Regions from separate parts of the Homo sapiens genome. Here region 1 is linked to region 2. The links come from fine-mapping of genetic effects on gene expression. Tissue or cell type: whole blood. Region 2 holds a variant in brackets; the other region holds the start of a gene. All regions are shown on one strand. Distances are between the middles of the regions.

Region 1 (2,682 bases), 130 kb after region 2:
GATACAGCCAGACACCACAGTCCAAATGGCTTGGAGGTGTTTCCTGTGGGAAGAATCACATGTGGAAAAGCCAACACGGAAAAGAACCTGTAAGGCGGGTTACAAGGCAGAGACTTTCTTTGCATTCATACACCCACCTGGCACACAGTTCAAATGGTACAAAGGGAACACAGTCAAAAATTAAGCTTCCTTTGTCCCCCTGGGGCCGCAACCTATTGGCTCCCCTTTTCCCAAGCTGCTGCTCTCTGTCCCTGTACGGCTTTCTGGATGTCATGTACATTCTTTAGCCTTAAGGTAGAATCCTTGCGGAAGGAAAAAAAAAAAGGCATTTGTACAAATACCCATTCTAGTGCGCCTTCAATTTGTCACAGGTAAAGTTCATCACCAAACATGATCTTAGTTACAATAAACTCTGTCCAGGAAACTTTAATGAAGACGTTTCAGTGTGCCTGGACCCGTTTCCAGGCTCAGTCCTGAAAGAAAAATCACAGTGATCCCCAAGTTCATCTCTGAGCTGCACCTTGAGTGACATCGATGGATGGATGACAAATGGTCACCTGAGCGACTCGGCCATTTCAGCAGGGCCATGTGGCCTCCGGCGACCGTCCACTGCCTCCAGGTCGGGCCTAAGCCCCCGCCTCCTCCCATGCCGCACAACAAAGCGGGGCGCTCGCCCCCACCCGGCCAGCCCGGGCCACCTCGCGCGCTGGCGGCGCCCGGCTCCTCTCCCGAGGGCGCAGCGGCCGACGGTGGCCGGGGTGGGGGAGGGCGCGCAGCGTCGCGGGCTGGGCCCGGGGCTGGAGAACGGGTGCGGGGTCCGCAGGCCTCGGAGATCGGGGCCGGGGCGCAGCGCCTGGGGATCAGCGCCCCGGCGCGCGCCTGCCCGGCCCACCCGCCTGGAGCCGGACGCGCAGTGGCACAGACGCACAGCGGGACAGACGGACGCCGGAGAGACCCTGACAGCCGTCCGGCCCCCGCGCCCGCCCGGCGCCCCCCGGCTGCCCTCCCGGAGCGCTCACCTCCCGCGCGATCTGGTTGAGCGCGTCGTCCTCCGCCGTGAGCCGCTCCCGGTTGGGGAGCCGCTTGCGCCCCGATCCCTGGGTGCCCATGTCCATCGACCGCGTCGCCCGCAGCTGCCGCGGGGCCCGTTGCTCCAGCCGCTCGCGCCGCCCCGGCCCGGCCCCGGCCCCGGCCCCTCCCTCCGCCGCGGCGTCATGGCGTCAGCGGGCGCTGGGCCGGGGACGCGGGGACGCGGGGGGACGGGGGCCGCGGGGACCCGGGGGAAGCCAGAGCCGGAGGTCCGCAGCGCGGGCCAGGGACTGCAGGGGCCAGGGACGGCGGGGCGGGGGACGGGGGCGGGGGGCGGAGACGCCAGGTGTCAGGGACGATGGGGGTCCGATACCACGGGGACGCTGCGGATGCCCAGGGCCGGGCACGCGGGACCTGAGGGACCGGGAGCCCCGGAGGGTGGACTTTGCGGGGACTGTTTGGCGGGCCGGTAATCGCGGAGCGACGCGCGCCAGGGCGGTGGGCACCGGTTGAGTGGGGACCTGAGCGGAGAGCGGGGGGGTAGGAAGGCTTTCAGAGGCCTGAGTTGCCTTGAGGGGTTTGCACGGAGGGGTGAGCACAGGATTTGGTTCAGCCTGGCGCTCCCCATTCCGCGGTGAGTCGGGGTGGAAGTCCCTCGCCGGGGTGAGAGCTAGGCTCTGGGGTCAGGCCGAGAGGTGCTCGGATCCGCCCGCCACCGCCGCTCCTGTGACCTTGGCCAGCCTCCTGGGCGCCGGCTTCACAGCGGCATGGTGTGGATGTGTGCGTTTCTGTCTTTACACGCGTGTTCTCCGTGCTAGCATCCATCCTTCTCCCCGCTGTCTGCCCCCTGAGATCAAGGACTTGTCACTTCTCTGGTGGGTCCCCAGCCTCTAGGATCGGGGCAGGTGCGTCGCAGCTCTCTCCTAGTTGTTGAAAAAGTAATGAACTTACCTGTGCTCTCTGAAGCTCACAGTCTATGCTCCAGAGGTGGATTTAAAAGTAAAGCAAATCGGAGGATTAGGTAGGGGTTAAAAGCCCCTGCCTAGGGCACGGCAGGAGCACCGGGTGGGAAAGTTACTGGTGTGTTTGGGGTATGGGGAGAACTTCAGTGTGGCTGGACCTGGGGAAGGATGGGAGGGAGGGTAGTGATGGTAGAGGAGAGGAGGCTGTACTGAAGTCACCTGTGATTTTTTTCCCCCAGTGATAAGGACAGTTAACATTTCGGTGTATTTCCCACCAAGTGGTGTGACCAGATTGCTTTGGATTCTTAAGGAGGTGGCCTGGAAGCTGTATGAAGGTGGGAAGAGGAAGAGGGCCCTTCCACCCACAGTGGCAGGGAAAGCTGTTGGAGGTTTCATTGCAGGGAAAAGACAGCGAGTCCAGTGACATGGGAGGGAGGGCAGATCCAGGTGACATTGCTCTGGGTGCCTGAGCTGACGCAGGTGGGTTGGCAGGGCTGACTGTGGCATTGTTCATGACTGAACTCCGGGAGCAGAAACTGCACCTGCACATTGTAGGCACTAAGGAAATAGGTGTTGACTGAATCTTCCAGGCCATATTTACATTACTTCAGAGGCCATACTCCTTAAGTGACATAGTCCTCCTTGGGGGAAACCTTGAGCCGTGGCCACTTGCACTGCCTTGGTCTTGCTG
Region 2 (2,682 bases):
AGCAGTTGCATTAGTAAATTTTGGGTCAGTGAGGGCCACTGCCACCACATCAAAGGCCAGAGTGGCTGCTGGTGCCATCTTGTGTGGACAGATTTTTAAAGGTGACGTTAAGTTTCAACAAATAGAAAGAACTCTGGATCAGGCAGCCAAACAATCCACAATGATGGGTTTAGGAACAGACTGAAGGTTCAATTCCCCACTCTCACTTCTCAATGAACAACTTGACAACTTGTACTTTTGCAGCTGTCAAACTGCACTCCATGTCACACAGCCCTAAAAGCAGCTTTCAAGTAATTTTTAAAAAGAATATTCAGTGCACTTTTAGAAATGCAGCCTCAAGGTCAGTCTCAAGGAAGATGCTTTTGAAATAGCTCATATGAAAGGAAATCTATCTTCTGCCACTCAACTATTGTTTTCCTGAGAAAACACCCTGTGTCCATGCCCTGATACCTCTGCTCCATTCCCTAAGGGACTAGGGAGAGAGGACCAGCAGGAGGCAAATGTTCAAGATCAAGATGACCACTAAATTAAATGATAAATTATTCATCGTCTAAAGAACATCAAACTGTTTTGGAATTTTTGGACTCTCCAAACAAAACCCCAGCAGATTAGATATGGTACTATGTTACTGAAAGTCAAAGCTAGATAATTTTATAGCCCAGTGATCTCCATGGTGGGGTGCCCATATCCCAGGGAAAATGGGGGAAATATTAGGAATTCTATTTAGAGTTTTACTCTAAAACTTCTTTGCATATCTTTGCATATATTTTATAACGTACATTTTATATTAATGAAATAGTATACATATGTAGATTTAAAATAAACATACATATTGGATCCTACAATTCTTTGCTGAAGGAATATGTGATCAAAAGTCATTTGAAGGCCACTTTCAAAACTGACATTTCTGGTTCTTACAACATTTCACAATGGTTATCAAAGATTTATAAAATGTGTATTTGAGTAAGAGCAGCGTAATCAGATTCCTAGCTGTTCGGGTAGCTCATATAAAGGTATGATGGAAATTGATTAATTTATCTTTTCTCAACAACGGTATATAGATACTACATACCTATCTAGAGACGGAATCTTGCTAGGTTGCCAGGCTGGCCTGGAATTCCTGGTCTTAAGTGATCCTCCAGCCTTGGCCACCCGCAGCGCTGGGATTAGAAGTGTGAGCCACTGCACTAGGCCACAACTTTTTTTACACAATTGAAAAGAGCTGTGTTTCTTTAATAGTCATAAAGATAATGAATGAGGTACCTCCCTGGAATGCGAGGCCTGAGAAGATGGGGCCTGGAGGTGTCTACATTTCCATAAATAAAAAGAAATAAGATGAAAGCTTCTAC[A/G]TTAAAATGAAAAGTCACGGACCCTGACCTTATTCCAGCCTCTTTGTAAAACACTGGAACGCAGAGGGTGACCAGTGACAGATGAGGCCTCACTTGCACGCTGCAACTTCAGGCTGCACGCCAGAATCTGAAGGTTTCTCCCAAAGCCAACTCTTATGACAAATTATGACAAATCAGATCATTGAAAATGGTATAAAATATTCCTCTGATCTACTGGATTCCCCAGTTTTATATTCTTTCAGAAGCAAACACGTGGCATACAAAGGAGGATCCCCTCTGACAAAGGTGGGCATACTCAGACTCTCAGCACCGCCACACCCACTACCACGGCCGCCTGCCCACCTCGAGCGGTGGCTTGAAAAAGGCAACACAGACGGACCTGCTGTCCACAGGCACCCCGTACCCTCAAAGCGCTGAATGCTGCCCAGGATGTCGATGTTGGCTTGCAAATATGGCCAACTGACTTGACGGCCTCAACCATTCTGATCTTTTGATAATTCTGTCATAGAATCGGTTTAAAAAGCCACACTTTATAGGTACAGATATATATGTGTCTGAGGAAAACCAAATAGTACTCTCCACATTGTTACTTAATTTTGAGACTGTTTTCCTTTTGCCTTCACAGTCTTGCTTGGTAGCTTTGAGCAGCAAAAGAAAAGGTTCACTTGAGCCATTGATGGTGCACTACACAGAGATGCATGCCAGACAACACGTGGGTGACCACACCGGGTGGGCAAGGAAATTACCATGAAGTGATGAAACAAATGGCATGCTGGTGACTGTTAACCCATCAGCGACGGTGGCTCCAACCCCAGCAGTGCATGGAGGGTGAACCAATGCTGAGTGGAAAGGTGTGAGGAGCCGAAGGAAAGCAAATACTTACCTAGGGTCCCATCCCCTGTCGACTTGAGGGCATTTAACTCTTCTTTTGTCATCTTGGTAGGACCTTGGTATCCAACATTATTGAGGGTGTCGGAAGTCTCTCCATTGGTAGCTATTTCTGAATTTAGGATTATTCCATGTTTCTGGGAACAAAAATAGGCTCATCGTAATATTTACTCAGTGATATTAGGTTAAACTCTGTTTTAATACAATAATAAAAAAGAAAACCATTTTTTCCTGAAGTACAGGGTAACTCCACAGAGACAAGAGAAATGCTAGGGTGCAGCACTCGTAAATATTCGGTCAACACACACAAATCTGGGATATCGTCCTCCAAAGGCTACTTCTTTCTCAGATGTTCCAATCCATGCTTTCATTTGCTGGTGACAAGCTACTTCCACCAGGCATCCTTTTTAACTACAGGTAGTGGCCTGTGGGCTGCCCCCAAGTG

What was found. PIP is the estimated chance that this variant, and not a neighbour inherited with it, causes the effect.
Region 1: LRRFIP1 starts here. The variant in region 2 is fine-mapped to the expression of LRRFIP1 in whole blood (TOPMed, PIP 0.94).

Annotation. Positions count from the first base shown.
Region 1 is chr2:237,626,078-237,628,759 of GRCh38, reverse strand. LRRFIP1 (LRR binding FLII interacting protein 1) reads right to left here and starts at 1,173. Exons shown (of 24, transcript NM_001137550.2): 1 at 1,020-1,173. The coding sequence starts at 1,115.
Region 2 is chr2:237,759,756-237,762,437 of GRCh38, reverse strand. LRRFIP1 (LRR binding FLII interacting protein 1) reads right to left here. Exons shown (of 24, transcript NM_001137550.2): 19 at 2,233-2,374. Among named protein-coding and RNA genes, the nearest start is that of RBM44, 38 kb to the left of the region's middle. RefSeq lists a silencer at 1-9. The variant A/G (reference allele first, on the strand shown) is at 1,350.